3 separate regions of the Homo sapiens genome follow, and regions 1 and 3 are each linked to region 2. Evidence: fine-mapped expression QTL. A gene starts in region 2. Each other region holds a variant in brackets. All regions are shown on one strand. Distances are from middle to middle.

Region 1 (5,424 bases), 24 kb before region 2:
CTGCCTCTCCACCCAACCACCTGCTGCCCTAATCCTCCCTCAGAACCTTGACCCCAGGAGGCCAAAAGGATGGATGCCATTGCCCCAGGGGCCCCAAGACCTGAGGAGCAGCCCCTGAGCAGGCCTGCAGTGAAGGGCCCGGAAGGCACTTCCTAAGGTCCAGCCTCTGGCATGTCAGGATGCTGTGGGGTAGACACGCCCTGGGTCAATCCAGCCCAGAAGCCGGGGGAGCCAGCACCCTGTTCCTCCCCTCTCCACACGGTTGACAGTCCTGTCCAATATCAAACCTTCCAGGCAGAAGGAACCCTTCCTATGAAGTAGATTTCAGCTCAACCATAGGAAGAGGTTGCTGGCTTCCATAGGAAGGCAGTCAAGAGGTGATGAGCACCCCGTGACAAGAAGGATTCAAGCAGATGCCAGATGCCCACAGGCAGGGAAGAGAGGCCAATCTGTGGGGAAGGCAGTAGGGCTAATGTTTTAGGAGCCCTACCCCACCTCTAAAGGGTTCCACCAATGAGACAGAAATCAGCTGGGTCACAGGACTGCAGCTCATGAGAATGGTATGTCAGCTGGGTCTCTGGAGGAGGTGAGAATGAGCCTGGGGCCTCAGAGGACCCCAGTGCCAAGAGTCAGTCTCAGAGCCAGCTCTCGGCAGGCGGGCACAGCCCCCATCTTCTTCCTGCCGGCCTCCAGGCCTGTCAGGCTCTGCAGCTGGGAGCCATGGCTACAGTCCCCAAACAGCTGGAATAATCCCTCAGAGCCCCATGCAGGGGGTCACAGCTGCCACCAAGCCAAAGCCAAGAGCCAGGACCCTGGGCATTAGAGAGAAATGTCAAAAGAAGGATGCAGAATTCCAGAAGAGCGGAAGAACTGAGGCCAGCACAGGCAGGGCTTCCCACTCCCTGAGACACACAGCTCTGCGGTGCAGGCCACCAGGCGGTCTCCCTGCTGTCCCTGCACACACACTCTGCACCTTCTGCATCTGAAACATGGCTCATCACCCCCCAGCCCCTGCCCAGACTCACCCCCTGGGCTTCCCTCACCCCCACCACTTGGGCCTCTGCAGCAGGTGCACACCTCCTCACCCAGCAAGTCTCGCCCCATCTGTTCCTAGCACACCGGGCTTCCTGCCGTGCCCCACAGGTCGGTTCTTTCACACTTCTGACCACCTGCCCATGCTGTCCGCCCCTGGAACGCCCCCATCCCTGCCTACCATGCACAACACGGAAGCCTCTTCCTCGCACCATCCTCTCAGAGGGCGGTCCAAGAGGAAGGACACAGAGGAACCCAGGGTGTTGGAAAGGGTGGTCAGATCGAGACCTGAAGGGCCAGCACATGGTATATTCTCCTGACCTGAATGCCTCCCGTGTGAAGGACAATCCACAGAGTCCACTTCGTGCCAACCCTAAATGTCCAGCCCGTATCCCTGACTGGTGTGCTAGCCACCATCCTGGAGAAACCCTACTTGTCAGGATCAGAGCTCAAGATAGAGAGGAATGAGCCCCATTTGCAGGGGGTGGGCAACGGGGGCTTTTCTTTTCTTTTTTTGGCCAGCGTTTTCTGGAACTAAATTCCTCCTGATGAGGAATAAAACTCCAGGGACAGGAGGAATGTCTGGGGACCTGAGGGATAAGACTATTCCTGTGCCAGTTTGGTTACCTGGGCCAAGAAATGTATTTTTTTTTTCTTTTTGCTTAAACTCATCTGAATTGGATTTTCTGCCACTTGCATTCACAAGAGCCCTGGCTGCTTCAATGTCCAAATCGAAACGCTACACTCCATCATTTCCATCACCAACCTGCGCCTCCAGTCTTGAAAACGGACTCATCCTGTAGCCAAGCCAGAGGCCCCCATCATCCTCCCCTGCTCTTCCTCCTCATCCCTTCCTCCGCAATCACCATGGAAAGGTTTCCCTGGGGCTTGCAGGCAGCCAAGGGCCAGTGGTCCCTCTCCCAGGGAGATGGCTCACCGTGTGCTGGAAGGAAAGGCAGGAAGAGGAAGGCAGATGGCCTCTCAGCTGAAGAGGGAAAAAGAGAATCCCCAATAACACTAGCTGGCTGATTGCATATAATTATGAAGAGAAAAAGTTCTTTAAAATTAGCTTCCCAAATACAGATATAATTTCAAGTGTCCCTTGTGGTGTGATTACAGCGTCAGCCCAACAAATGTTTTCCCGTCAGTACAGAATACTCAGGCCCCTGCAGGCAAAAAATAATGAAGCCAACAACGGCGCCAGGGCCAGACAGCTCCCACAGAAGCACTTCCAGCTGCCCAGGAAAGCACCAGGCCAGGAAGCCCAGCCCAGAACCAGTCTTGCTCCCCTCCACAGCTGGCCTCGGGCTCTTCCCAAGAAGGCACCAGGCACATCATTCTTCATTCTCTCTTTTTAATCTTCAGGGCCTTTGATATTCAGACTCAAATGCCAAGAGCAACCAGCTCATGTCAACAAGGATGGCTTCACTTGCTGTGTGCCTCCTACGCCGAGTGCTGGGCTCTACACCTCGGTTTTCCGGCCTGGAAAATAGCACGGTGGCTGGGCATGTAACTCAGGACACTGCCAGAGGGTGGAATGAATGAGGCTGGCACATAGTGGCATCCAGTCAGTGTCACCAGCTCCTCCCCGCCTCCCATTTAACCTCAGTCTTCAGGTGTGGCACCTGAAGCTCAGACAGGCTCCAGGAGCCATGCAGCTAGTCATAGAAGAGCAAGGAGGCAAACCTAGCTCTGCCAGGTCCAGACTCCATGCTCTTGTCACACTGGGTCCTTGCTGGGCGTGAGGGATGACGGGAGGCGCCACTCCTGGGCAGCACTGGCAGGCCGGGTGCACTCGGACCTCAGCTGCTGCTCGGCCCTCTTCAGGACCCTGGGTTTGAGCCTTGATTTTAAAGCACCACAGGCTCTGGCACGGTGTCCAACCCCATGACTCCCCTGTCCCCCAGGCTCTCCACCTCATTCCCCACTTTTTACACAGAAGAGAGCCCAAGAACCCTTTTATAAGCAAGGCCCAGAACTGAGAGG[G/T]ACTTATCTGAGGTCACAGAGAAGTCAAGGGGAGATTAACACACTGTCACCAGGCACCCACGCTAAGCCCAGCATGGGGAGGGTGGGCACACTGGCATTCGCAGCCTCCACCAGCACCCATGGAAAGGCTACCACAGCCCCACGCCAAAGATGCAAAATCGAGGCTCAGGGTCCCCTACAAGGACCAGAGTGCCAGGATTTTCCATCCAGGCCTCCTGACCCCCAGACCTGAGGTCCTTACGGCACCACGGAAGCCTGGAGCAGGAAGCCAGGCGCTCTGACTCCCAGGTCACATCAAGCACATGTCAGCACATGGCTACACGGGCCTTGACATGGGTGAGGGAGGACAGCATGCCAGCCCCCAAAGCAGGCCTGACCCACTGCCTGGAAACAGAGCTCGCCAGGTGGCAGTGCAGCCAGGCTGGGACCAGAAGGGAATGATGAAGAACCCTCAGCCAGCACTGGCCCTCAACGGAGCAATTTTACCCCCCACCCAGAGGACATCTGGAAGTACCTGCAGACATTCTTGGAAGACGAGAGTAGTACTGGCATCCAGTAGGTGGAGGCCAGGGATGCCGTTGGGCACAGCTGTGGGGAACCCAGCCAAAGCTGGGCCTAATGTGGTCCTGGCTGATGTCCACTGGGTCAGCCAAGCTTCCACCCCACGACAGCCAGGGCACCCTCTGCCCAGCCCCACTGCATTCGACTCAGCCTCCAGGCACCAGGAGACTCCAGCACGGCAGGGCCCAGGCCAGGGGGCTGGGCTGAAGAGCGCACTCCCCTGCCTCAGCCGAACCCACCAGCCACAGACTCACCCACCCTCCAGCCACGGCGCGTGCCTCCAGGGTGCCCCAGACCATAATAGTCTTTCCCTAGAGGAACCTCTGTCCCAGATCCGACTGCTGCTTCACTTGGTCTTCACAATGACGCCCCCAGCTCTCCATACACTCATTACCACATGACCCCTCATGACCAGGATGGCTACTCAACAAGCAGGATGCCGTTCTGTGACCAAGTCCAGGCCTGCATGGGCTCAACACCCATCTGCTGACAGCACAACGGCAAATACCCAACCTGTGGGGCAGACACGACCCACACCTACATGGACACGGCAGAAAGGACAAAGGACAGGGTCCACAGGGTTCTAGGGCCTCCAAGGGCAGAGATGGGGTGTGCAGGCTGCCCTGTGGAGCCCAGCTCTCTGCCCTGCCCCAGCGGCCAGGCCGTTTCGGCCCTTTGTGTTATAACTGCACTAGTCCTCAAGCCGCCCCTGGCGTGGGGTGATGTAGCCCTCCTCCCAGTCAGAAGTCTGAGTGCTCCGACATCATCTCCTCTTCCCCCGCTCCCCAACCTCCCCTTCCTCATGAAGTCAGGCCTTGACCTCAGTCCTTTCTTCCCCCCTCAGCCCTGCGCTGAGGTCAACAGGTTCCCTAAACCAGTGTTTGCAAACATGAATGTGCCGTGTGTACTGGCACCTCTTGGGGGTCTTGTTAAAACACAGATTCTGAGTCCGTGGATACAGAGGGCGTGGCGATGCTGAGGAACCAGGAGTGCTGAGGCCACCGGCCCCATACAGACAACATCCTGAGTAGTCGAGGAATAGCCGAGGTTGCTAATGAGTCCTCAGACCTGGATGGACTCTGAAGAGTTGATATCCACCACCACTGCACGATCTAGACCACCACTGCCTGGACAATCGCAGCAGCCTCCCCCTCCAATCCCACAAGCCCCTGGCTTCCACCCAGCAGCCAACCTCACACAACTGCTATGGCTCCCCCAGCCTTCAGGGCAAAGCCCAAGCGTGTACAATGATGGCTTATAGGATCCTGTGCAACCCGGCCTCAAAGGGATCCTCACCCCGATTGCCAAGCTCCAGGTGGACTAAACTTCTCTCAGCTCCTGGGGCGCTCCAGCCAGGCCCCCACCGCCTCGGCTCCACCGCTCCCGGGAGAAGGGAGGGTCTGGGGGCATCCCAGCTCTTACACCTGGGTGGTCTAGCAGAGGTTAGTTAACCTCTGTGAGGAGCCTCAGTTTCCTCCTCCGTTCTACCCGAGGATATGCGGGGCCTCCTCCTCCTCTCTCTTCCCTGCCTAGAGCAGTTCCTTGGAGCAGGGGATTGGAGGACAGACACTGGCAGGTGGCTGCCCTGTGGGTGACTTAAGAATAAGACAGAAGGAAGCAAGAAGCAGAGCTGAATCACCGTCGGTATGGGCTTTTCTGAAAACTCACCTATGCCCATGGCTCAGAGGAGGCTGAGAGGGAACGTCCTCCACAGGCCAGCCTAGGATGTCTCCCCCAGACCAGCAAGCAGTGCCAGCTGCACACCACCCATACAGCTAAGTCACCAAGGAGCTGTCAGCTGGACGTGGCCCCTGGGAGCCGGGTGAAGCCATCATTTTATCAGTG
Region 2 (5,000 bases):
TTCAAGTACCCTTTTGTAATGTTCCAAGGGTCCTAAGACTCATTTTCAAAGCTCTGGCTTCGAGCTCCTCCTGATTTCTTCATGAATTGCTGGGGCCACTCTGCATGCCCTATTGATCATGAAGAGCCTGTCTTCTAGGGAAACCGGCCTGGGAGAAGGCAGCCAACCCCATCCCCAGACCAAGGGATAAAGAACCAGGCACTATCCTGTACAAGCTGTGCCCCTCTGGCTGCAGGAAGAGCGCCTGCGGGGCTTGCACGGGGCAAAGGAGCAGCAGGCCCTTGGGAAAGGCATGAGGCACACAGAGGTGCTGCCAGGCTCACCTGCGCATGCCAGCTCAGACCAGCCACGGGCCCCCAGGAGCACCAGGGGTTACGGAAACCCAACTGTTCAATTCTCCAAGATGTGTGGGGCCCCCACAGGGACAAAAATGCAAGTAGAGCCCATTTTCAAAAATCAGTCTAACAAGCTGCATCACAAAAGGTTTCCACCTGGAGTTTGCAAAAGGCTTTCAGAGCTAGATTCTCTTAGGCTTGCATTGAGAAAAGGGCTTAACTGCTTCTCAGAGGCAAAGCTACAGTTGTGGAGCAAGGGAAGGCCTACCTGACCCAAGACTCAGTAGTTCTGTAATTTATTAAGAACGTGATCTGTTAAACACCGGAGACTCCGCCAAGGAGCACCAGCATGGTGGGAGCAGGGGCACACAGCCCAGATGGCAGAAGGCCACTCCACACCACGGGCATTTACCCAGCACTTTCTACGCACCAGCCACTCCCTAGCTGCGGGACCCCAAGCTAGGTACCCCGCTCCTCTGCCGATCGGTCCCCGTTCTCAGACAGGTGGCCCAGAATCACCACCCTGGCCAATTTGCAGGGCTGCTGCGAGGCTCTAATGAGACAGCAAATCACCACATACATGCCAAGAATTGCTACTCGCTTCAACTGGGCTTAACCTCATGATATGCAATGACAGCCTCAAGAGCCGAGCACACGCGGGGCACATAGTAGGTGGTCCACAAACGTGGGTGCCCTTTCTTCATGAAAGGGAAGGGGACGAAGGAAGAAAAACACTCCGGTCCAAAAGTACCCTCAAGCCCTTACCCCACAGCGTGGATGCCCCGATTTCCCAGGTCCCTCCGCAACCCTCAGTAGAACTCCCACCGCGCCCTGGGCTGCTGGGGGCCTCCCCAGCCGGGTCACAGTGCACCTGAACGCCCCGGTCCGTGCCACCTCGCCCGCACCGGCCACCGCTTCCCTGGAACGCGGCCGGCGGCCGCCACCGCCACCTGGCTGCTCGGACTCAGTCTCCCCGCGCGCCGCTTCTTCCCGTTTGGCTCCGATCTCCCAAAACAACTAATGAGGCTGCACCGGGCTCGGGCCGGGGGTCACCGGGCTCGGGCCGGGGGTCCCCGGGCGCCGGCGCCGCGTCCCTCCTTACCTGCACAGCTCGGCGAAGGCCTGGAAATTCAGCTTCTTGATTTTCTTCTCGCTCAGCCAGTAGCCAACTCTCTTCCCTTTCAGAAAGGTCTGCATCTTCCTCCTCGGGCGGGGAGCCTGGGTCCGGAGGAAATCGCCCACAGGCCGAGTCTGGCGGCCGGCGCGCGCCGCGAGCGAGTGGGCACCTCCTCCCGGCGGCGGGGACGCGGAACGGGGATCGGAGCTGGGGCGCGCAGTCCTGCCGCGCGGAGCGGAGCGGGGCGGGGCGCGGCGGGCGGCCGGGAGGAGGGAGCGGCGCTCAGCGCGGAAGGCCACTGGCTGGGCCAAGCTGCCACCGCCCACGCCCCCGCCGCCTGCGGGCTCGCCCGCCCGCCCACCGGCTCGCGAGCGCCGCGCCGCCCGGCCTGCCGGCTGAGGCTGGGGCACGGCTGAGCCTGAGTCTGAGTCGGAGCTGGGGCCAGGGCCCGCAGGAGGGGAAGCCGGGCCTCCGCAGACACCGCCCCCGCCCTGCCCGCCCTCCCGCCGCGCGGGCCCGAGCCACACGCCCTCAGGCGGCGGCAGAAGCGCGGCCTCCGAGCCCTTCCTCCCTCCTCCTCCCGCCCGGGTCCTCGCCCTCTGATGTTCCCAGCCGGGCCGTAACCCCTGGGCGCGCTTGGACCCCGGCGGGGCGCACGCGGCCACTCGGCCCGGCCAGAGATCCTCACCCGCCGCCGCCGCCGCCACTTCCTCCTCGGCCTGGTCCTCGCGCGCTGCCCGCCGAGAAGGGCGGCGGCGAGCGCCCGCGCACTCGCCGCCCCTGCCCGCCGCCGCCCCGCGCTGGCCCGGCCGCCCCGCTTGAGCCCGCGGCGGCGAGGAAGCGGCGGGGCGGCCGCCAGGGGGCAGCGCCGCCCGCCGCCTCTTAAAGGCGCCGCGCCGGCCCTCGCGGCTACCCGGCGCCTGTTTGTGTCCCCGGGTGTGGGGTGCGGGGCGCGGGGCTTCCTGGGGGCGGCCGTGGCCCGGCGGTCTTACTTCGGGAAGGGAGCCGCGGTGTGGGCGTGTGTTCCGCCTGGCCTTTGGGGGCGACCGAGCCGCTGAGTTTCGGAAACGTCTCTGTACCCCCAGCAGGGTTCAGCACCCCCAAGGCAATCCATTGCAACTGCGCCCGGAAGGAGACCTTCCAGGAATTCGCCCCTTCCCTCGAGGAAGCGGACCCTGGCCCAGGATGGGGCCCCCCGGGGGGGTGGGTGAACACCCAGGGGCCCTCCTAGGCGTAGGACGTGACCACCAGTTCTCACTCTAGGTCCCCTTCACTGAGGGGGGAAGGGGCGGGGACTGGAGGCGACAGCGACAACAGCGGCCGTCCCCGGAGACCCCTTCCTCAGGGGTGCGGGTCAGCGTCGGCGCCGGGGAGTCACTAAACCCCGCCTACCCTGCCCTGCCCTATGGGGCAGCCAGGGAGCTTTCCTGCCTCAATGGTCTCTGGGTTTGGGAAGGAGAAATGGACTTCTCTCCCCAGGCCCAGGCAGGAAAAATGGATTCCCGTGGAGGGAAGGCTCAGAAAAGTTTGAGAGGAGACACTGAAGCTGGCCTTGGAAATCAAGGAGATTTTGATGGAGCAGGGAAGGGGGATGAGCTTGAATTGAGGCTGGGAGACAAGAAAAAGCCAAGTTGCCAGCGGGTGACCAAGACTTCCCTTGATCACACTTGAGTCAGGCTCCTCCGAGACCTCTTTCTGACCAGGCCCCGACCTTGGGCTCTGTCCTTGGCCTTCTTAGTCCAGTTTTAGCCAGAATCCTGCTGTCAAGAATATCTCCACGCTTGGTATGTGATCACCCTGGCCGGCCTACATTAAGAAACTCCGTCTCAAAAAAAAAAGAAAGACAAGGATCTCTCTATGCTGCCCAGGCTGGAGTGCAATGGTGCAGTCATAGCTCACTGCAGCCTCGAACACCCCTGCTAAACTGATCCTCCCACCTCAGCCTCCCGAGCAGCTGGGACTACACTGTGTTGCCCAGGCAGGTCTCGAACTCCTGGCCTCAAGCTGTCCTCCCACCTGGGCCTCCCAAAGTGCTGGGATTGTAGACCTGAGCCACCCCGCCTGGCTTCCCTGCCATCTTTAACGAGAATCTGATTAGTTTTTTTCTTTAACAAGGTAGAGAAAACGGATGGATGGAGAGTGGAAAAGACGATGGGTGGGAAACAGGACTCCTCCAGGGGGCCAGCTAGGGACGGGCACTGCATGCCTTAGGCAAGGGTACTGCGAGTTTCATAGGCCATGGGAGCCTAGAAGGTAAGTGGTGACAGGTTCCAGGGTCAGCTCTGTGGCTTAGAATGCCTGGCTCCTGGGGGGGACATGGAAAGCTGGATAAAGGGAAGATCATAGCAAGGACCCCTAGGGCCGAGGCACAAGATGGATAAAAGAAGGCTAAGGGAGGCTGCGCATGGTGGCTCATGCCTGTAATCCCAGCACTTTGGGAGGCCGAGGTGGGCACATCATGAGGTCAGGAGATTGAGATCATCCTGGCTAACACGGTGAAACCCTGTCTCTACTAAAAATACAAAAAATTAGCCGGGCGTGGTGGCGGGCGCCTGTAGTCCCAGCTACTTGGGAGGCTAAGGCAGGAGAATGGCGTGAACCTGGGAGGCAGAGCTGGCAGTGAGCTGAGATCGTGCCACTGCACTCTAGCCTGGGCAACAGAGTGAGACTCCGTCTCAAAAAAAAAAAAAAAAAAAGAAGGCGGCTAAGGGAGTAAAAACGAAGGGGATGGGGGCAGCAACTATAAACTTGATACTTGAAGTCAGCAGTAGGGATTACAGGCATCGACTTTAAATGTCCTGCTGTTCTTAGGAACTGAAAGACCAGTTGAGGCTGGGTGGTTCAGGAGGGTTCCTGGAATTCCCTCACTCCTTTGGCAAACACACGAGAGCCCAGTGTGTGGCAGAGGAAAATGGACACAAGCCATTGATTAGAAACACGGGATGAGGCTGGGCGCTGGGAGGCCGAAGCAGGCGGATCACCTGAGATCAGGAGTTCGAGGCCAGCCTGACCAACATGGAGAAACCCCATCTCTACTAAAAATACAAAATTAGGTGGGCATGGTGGCGCATGCCTGTAATCCCAGCTACTTGGGAGGCTGAGGCAGGAGAATCGCTTGAACCAGAGAGGCGGAGGTTGCGGTCAGCCGAGGTCGCGCCATTGCACTCCAGCCTGGGCGGCAAGGGCAAAACTCCATCTCAAAAACAAAAAAAAGAAAGAAAAAAGGAAACGTGGGGTGAGAGCTGAGAGGGAAATGGGAAGGAAGATGGCAATCTGTCCCATTTTGCTGCATGACTGGGGAGACTGTGGCATAGGATCTTGAAGGATGAGTAGGAAGGAGTTCAGTGGGGGAAGGAGGCAACATTCCAGGCAAAGGCGAAAACAGGTGCGAAGTTTCAGAGGGTGAAAAGGGAAGAACACCGTAAATAAGGGCACGGTAAGATGGAGATGGGCAGGAAGATGAGGCCTGAGAAATGGACCAGGGGAACTTGGGAGGGATGCTGAAGACAGTGTGTGTGTGGTCACTTCTGAACAGGAGCTGGATGAAG
Region 3 (6,774 bases), 33 kb before region 2:
GAGGGTGGGACAGTGGTTACCCCATTACCTGCAGAGCAGGCCGAGGCCTGGGAGACTCAGGAAGTGCAGGAGCTGGCCCGGAACAGGGCTCTCCCCACACCCACGTGTTCACCACCAGGTGCACCACCGTGGGCAAGGGTGGCACCAAGCTGGAAGGCCTGGTCTCCAGCCTCCAGGGCCTCAGTGCAATGGAAGGACCAGGAGGTGGCAGCGGAAAACTGCATCCCCTCTGGTGGTGGAATCCCACATGCACCACCACAGCCTCTCGGGAAAATAAAACAACCTGTCGGGGCTCATTTTTCACTGGGAAACTCGTGCAGAGCAAAGGCACCAACAACCTCGATTCCCCAAGAAGCAAGTTCCTAAAGTCCTGCCATAACCAGAAAGTTCAGAAATTGAATGATGAAGCCAAAGGGGAAGAGGGAGAAGGAAGGGACATGGGAGACAGGAGGAGGGAACACAAATCAGAGCATTGGTTGTCAAGTGACTGTTCCTCCTGAAAACCCTGGCTCCATGATCCCACCTCATCACCCCACAGACAGGCTCAAGTGTGCAATATGTTTCCGGCTCTGCCCTGTTAATTACCAAACTGTATGTGATAGCAAAACACTAGCAGCAAATTAAACTTCCCCCAAGAGGGGACATTAACAAACCACACACAGTCAAAGGAATAGTATGCAGCAGTAAAAAAGAACACAGAAGGCCTCCATGCACCCACGAGGAATTATCTCCAAGACGTTGCTGTGTGAAACAGGTAAGATGCAAAACCCTGTGTGCTGTAGATAATTATCTGTGTTAAGAACAACATCCAGGACAAGCATGTGTGCTTGTGTACACACAGAGTGAACCTGAGGGCGCTACAGGAAAACAATCATGGCAGGGCCCCTGGTCAAGGGCAAGGGCAGCTGGGGTGGCCGAGGGACTTCCTTTTCACTGTGTCCCCTCATACATTGCTTCAATGTTGTGCCATGTGCCTATAACATGTTATCAAAAACTGGAAAATATATTTTTTAATTGTTTCTTAAATAGATGCTTGATAAAAGCACGAAGCAATCGATCAATGGAGGACACAAGACAGCAGAGCTCAGGATGTATCATGAAAAGCTTCCAAGTGCTGTCCCAAAGAGGAGCTGAAATGATGCCTGCAGTGGGGACCACCAGGCTGCAGCACTCGCTATGGGTTCTAAGCCCGTGGAAACATTCCGATACCTGGAAAACAGACTGAGGTGCGTGTGCTGCAGTGTTAACTGTGGCCACGGGGCTGTGGTTTTTCCTTCATACTTCCCTGTGTTTTCCAGATTTTCTACAATGAACATATACGCTACCCTCAAAACTATAGGGAAAGTAACAATAAAAGTTACATTTTTTTTTTTTGAGACAGAGTCTGGCTCTATCGCCCAGGCTGGAGTACAGTGGCATGATCTCAGCTCACTGCAACCTCCGCCTCCTGGGTTCAAGCAATTCTCCTGCTTCGGCCTCCCGAGTAGCTGGGACTACAGGCATTTGCCATGATGCCAGCCAATTTTTGTATTTTTAGTAGAGACAAGGTTTCACCATGTTGGCCAGGCTGGTCTTGAACTCCTGACCTCAAAAGTGCTGGGATTACAGGCTGAGCCACTGCACCCAGCCTACAATTTAATAATTTTTAAGTTTCATTAAAAACCTGCAGCCGGGCATGGTGGCTCACGCCTGTAATCCCAGCACTTTGGGAGGCCGAGGTGGGCCTCCCAAATCACCTGAGGTCAGGAGTTCGAGACCAGCCTGGCCAACATGGTAAAACCTCGTCTCTATAAGAATATAAAAATTAGCTGGGCATAACAGCAGGTGCCTGTAATCCCAGCTACTTGGGAGGCTGAGGCAGGAGAATTGCTTTAACCCAGGAGGCGGGGGTTGCAGTGAGCCAAGATCGTGCCACTGCACTCCAGCCTGGGCAACAGAGCGAGATGCCGTCTCAAAAAAAACACAAAACCTGCACCTGCGAATAATTTTACAGGCTCTAAACTGTCATTGTATTGATAAATATTACACTAATATATAAATACAATATATTAATATGAATATTAATAAAATAGGAATAGCTAAGTATAAACATGCTTTTCCAAAAGCTGGATTATTAACAAAGGGATGATCCGCTTTGCACAGGGAAGCCTGTCCCCAGAAGTCCAAGGAGCACGAACCCTTCAGGAAGTGAAAATACTCACAAAATGATTCGATCCTTTCAGAGGAGGAGGCTGGCAATAAAGGAAGGCTTCAAAGAGGAGGCAGCATTTGCCATCTGGCAGAGCAACTGAAGGGTAACTACAGACCGGTGCTGAGAAGAGTACTTAGAGAGGAGTAAGGTGAGTCCTGCGCCCTCCCCAAAGGGTGTCTGGGGCTCTGGAAGCTTAAAGCCCTCTCAGGGGGCGGGGGCTGAGACGCAGGACAGAGGATAAAGGTGGGGCACGCCTCAGAGGCCCAGGATGTCACCCTGTGGCCCAGCCTTTACCTATGGGCCAGTGGGTCCCAAATGCCAGGGCAGATAACCTGAGAACCACCACTGGAGCGTGTCAAAAATCCTCATTCGAGGCCCACCCTGAGGCCTCTGATCCAGGAGGCCTAGGGCAGGGCCTGGGAAGGATTCAGGGTTCATCGCACTCCGGGTGTTGCTCAGGAGCAGCTGGGTATGGGGACAGCTGCTTGTCCACAAGAGCGACTCCATGTGCTTCTCTGTGACCAGTGGAAGCAGGATCTGATTTGCTAGGGGAGGACATAGCAGGGGTGGGGTGGGGGGCAGCCCTTGCAGGTCTTGGGAAAAGGGTAAAGGAAACCTAAGAACCAGAAATAGTTGTGACGCTCACAGTCTGGAAGGAGCAGACTGAGGCCCTGCGCCAGGCCCAGGAGACGAGAGAACACTGCAAGAAGGCAGCAGCAGTCCACTTTTCAACCGTGGTGGTGCCAGGAAGTGGTTAGAAGCCCAGGACTGAGCTTCGCAGCATTCAGAGGCTTAGATGAACACAATTCGGGGGCGTAGGCAGGAGCGGAAGAGGTGGGTGAGCCCCTGAGAGCAGAACATGGAACCAGACCCCCCTGTACCTTGTGCCTCTGTTTTCTTATCTGTAAAATGGGAGAATCCTAGAACTCATCCCACACGGGCTTTAAGGGAAACAGAGTCCAGGCCTGGCACAGTACCTGGCTCATGCCAGGGATGGGGGTCTTGTGACCTGCACTCTGCCCTGCCACCCTGCCTTCCTACCCTTCCAGAACTGCCTCCTCCAGTCCACATGACTGGGGGCGGCACGCCCACTCCAGGGGTGGGCACATGACCTGTCACCTCACTTAGCAGCAGCATGGGAGCAGGACCCAAGCCAAGCCGGTCCTGGTCCTTTACCGGACGGGTCCTGGGGGACTGTCTGCAGTACAAATGGCACTGCCTGGAAATGCTGGAGGACACCATTGCTTCTATGTGGCGAGAATCCAGATGAGCCAGAGGCCAACCAGGAGAAAGGGCCAAGAGGGCTCCAGGAGGGCAAATTCCCCGGCCAGACCCGGCCGCAGTGGGGCTCGTCCTCTCTAGACCTTCAGCTGCAGATTTCTGCTCAAGCCAGCTAAAGCTTTCTGTCGCTGGCCGCTGAGCAGCAGGGACCCTGTGAGTGACAGTGGTTACCACTTCTGAAGATGATGAAAATTACTCTGGATGACCCAGCACTGAGGGAGAGGGGATGATAAGGGAAAACAATAAAGATGATCAGGGCAGAAGTAGAAAAGAGTGATGAGGAGCAGAGACACGTCCACGGCATCCACGCCACCACCAAGCCACTGCAGCACAGTACCAGGTGTGGCGTCAGGAGGTTAACACAAGACACTCTGGGATGACAGACCCCATCCAGCAGCAGGCCTGCCACACAGCACAGCAGGGCACAAAAGGCTCAGGGACCATGACCAGCAGCAGGCATGGGATGTGCTGCTGAGCCGCTCGGGGTCTCAGCTTTCATATCCGTTAAAAGGATATGACCTTTCCCACCCAAGAGGCCCTCCCCAGGGCAGGGTGGGGACCTGAGCGCTGCAGCAAGTGAAGTACATGAAATGGTGAAGAAGCAAGGGAGGAAGGTTCTACGGAGAACAACTCGGGGAAGTGGGAAGCCAGGCACATCCTCATCCAAGCAACGTGTGGCACAGTTCAGTAACTACTGATTTCAGGCACCCCAAATAACAAGACCCTTTGGCACCTCCAGGTACCAGGCACTGGGGAAAAAGCCCCAAGTTATGGTCCCCTTTCCCTGCCTGCAGAGGGCAGGGCCCACACC[G/A]TACCCCACAGAAGCCCAGGATGTCTCCCCAGGACTTGGGGCTCCTAAACAGATGACTAAGCCCCGTCACCCATGTGTGTTGATGGCCACACTGTTCCCTTCCTCAAATGCCATCCCCACATCACCACCTGACCCCCCAGGTCAGCTCCTCTGGAGAAACCTGCCTTGGCTCCCACCCTCCTCAGGCCCCACTGCCCCAAGCTGCCCACACCCAGCACTGGGCAGAGAGAAAGGCTGCTGGACTCCATTGCACTGACCCCACCAGGCTAATGCTCGGTGGTGAACATCAATGGTGGCCATCAAAGCCGGCAATTTCCCTCCTGGACACTCAGTGCCACTGTGTTGTCCCTGCCCCCAGTCAGGCATGGCCACAGGACTTGCCTTGGGCAATGAGATGTGAACAGAGGTGACCATGTCCCCTCCTGGAAAAAGCATTCCACTGCCAGCACCGAGGCCTCCCTGACCTCAGAAACAAGGAAGCACATGAGGCTGCCACCCACCAGCAGAGCCAGCCAGACCCGCCACCTGGAAACAACGCGGGCTGAGTGGCGACGAAGCCAGGCTGGGAACCAGAAAGAAACAACTGATGAAGAGGACCTCCAGCTAGCGCTGGTTCCCAACTATGGGCAACTGTGTGTCCCCCACAAGGAGATTTAGCAACACCTGAAGAGCTTTTTGATTGTCACACCGAGGAAAGTGCTACTAGAATCCAGTGAGGAAAGGGCCCCTGTAATGCAGAGGACAGCCCCCTAAAACAAAGAATTATCCAGCACAAAAGGTCCACAGTGCTGAACTTAAGAAGTGGGATACACACTGAGCCACTGCAGGGCAGACCACAGCCCCCGAGAGTCTCTGGATCCAGAGTGCATGCTGAATGAGTTGTGAGTAAACCTATTTCCGCCAGCCTTTCGACACTACTTGTCACTGCAGCCTAACCTGGCCTATCCTGACTAACAAGCACTCTTTCAGGGACACAGCTTGTGCCCTGTGTCCACAGCCCCAAATTCTTAGCAAAACACCTGCCACATGGGCATTTGGAGGTGCAGCTCAGAAGACACGAGGGGGAGGCAGCAGCAGCCTCTCAAACCCTCCCAGGAGGGACCCCAATCTCCAAATGCCAAGGCTTGACCTAAGTCTGCCTTTGCACAAACTGATCCCCCTGCCAGGCACCCTTCCTCAGCTGGCAAACTCCTGCCCACCCACCAAGAGCAGCTCAAGTGCCTTCCTCATCAAGAGGCAGGAATAATGGCTTCCACTGAAGCCTGCTCCATGCTCAGCATCAGACCATGAGCCCCTCGAGGCCAAAGATGGCTCTTTATTTCAGCATCCCTGTGCCCCCTGCAGACCCTGGGCCTGGCAGGCTCTCTGCAAACACTCCCCGAGTGCTGCCGGGTTCCTGGGCCAGGCTCCAGCCCCGTGTCACCCCTGCCCGCCTGCCCTGCGGCATCTTGGTTTACTTGCTGATTGTTTGGTAATTTGGATTTTCCTCCTATTAACAGTGCCAGAAACTGAAATGGCCCGATATAAAGACAACATACGAACAGAATTTTAAAGCCAGTACAAACATTTGAATTGTCTGGACAGCTCTAGGGAAGAACCAGATAAACTGGAAGCTGCCATGTGTCTTTTTTATTGAGTGGGGGCATCTTTCCTTTGACTGGGGAGTCACCAACCACCTTACCTGAAGACCCTCCCCCCGACCGGGTGCCCCACCCAGGGGAGGCAGGCCGGCCCCAAAGTCCGGGCGCCCCTCAGTGCAGGCACAGCAGCCTGAGTCAGTACACTCCCTCAGACCCAGAACAGCTTCCAGGGGTGCCTGGAAGCAGCTTTTCCCAGTGAACAGGCACAAGAGAGAGACAGAGTGGGTGACCCACCTTTGGCACCTCCCGGAGAGGTCATCAGAGCTGCAGGGGCTGAAAGCAGCACAGGAACTGAGGTGCCTTTGAGACTCCCCTCCTCAGTTCAATTTTCAGGAAGGAGGAAGTGAGGCGAGGGCAGGAGATCACGCAAGGCAGTGTTCTGCCACATCCAAGGGGCCACCACTTCAGATCAGGAATCATCCTGACTTCTTGCTGATCACAAACGTTAAATCTATTCCCTTAATGGCTCTCGACATCCCCGCTTTTTAGTGTGGAAATTCTCGACTTGAAATTGTTTTTGAGTCTTTTACTATCCCCTTGCAGGTGCGGTAATTTTTCTTTCCCCTAATTAGGGATGGGACCTAAATTGTGGGAAGCAGGGGAGTTGGCTGCTGGGAGAGGGAGGTAGTGGGGGGTGCTGGCAGGCTTGGTTCTAGCACCTCCTCCCCTCCCCGCTACCCCCACTCCCCCTCCTCCGTCAGCCAGCCAGCCTCAGGGCTAATGATTCAGTTGGTTCTCTTCACAGCAGCTTCTTAATCCCAAGAATGCAAAGTCATTTAGTATCAGCCTAATGAGCAAGGTAGGCTACTGCAGGAAGGGAGGCAGAAATTCCCGTGACATTTCCCTCCCTT

Direction of the effects. Alleles are on the strand shown, and positions count from the first base shown. SD is a standard deviation of normalised expression in the study named. Not every link is listed here.
For the expression in thyroid of the gene that starts at base 2,294 in region 2, allele T in region 1 goes with a higher level than allele G (large effect, 0.76 SD a copy in GTEx).

What was found. PIP is the estimated chance that this variant, and not a neighbour inherited with it, causes the effect.
Region 1: its variant is fine-mapped to the expression of ITPK1 in thyroid (GTEx, PIP 0.93).
Region 3: its variant is fine-mapped to the expression of ITPK1 in whole blood (TOPMed, PIP above 0.99).

The regions. Positions count from the first base shown.
Region 1 is chr14:93,089,090-93,094,513 of GRCh38, forward strand. All of the region lies in intron 2 of ITPK1 (inositol-tetrakisphosphate 1-kinase), which reads right to left. Among named protein-coding and RNA genes, the nearest start is that of ITPK1, 24 kb to the right of the region's middle. RefSeq lists an enhancer at 3,083-3,590. The variant G/T (reference allele first, on the strand shown) is at 3,019.
Region 2 is chr14:93,113,632-93,118,631 of GRCh38, forward strand. ITPK1 (inositol-tetrakisphosphate 1-kinase) reads right to left here and starts at 2,294. Exons shown (of 11, transcript NM_014216.6): 1 at 2,141-2,294; 2 at 1,438-1,674. The coding sequence starts at 1,532.
Region 3 is chr14:93,079,381-93,086,154 of GRCh38, forward strand. The region is part of intron 2 of ITPK1 (inositol-tetrakisphosphate 1-kinase); the gene reads right to left. Among named protein-coding and RNA genes, the nearest start is that of ITPK1-AS1, 15 kb to the left of the region's middle. RefSeq lists an enhancer at 5,263-5,886. The variant G/A (reference allele first, on the strand shown) is at 4,284.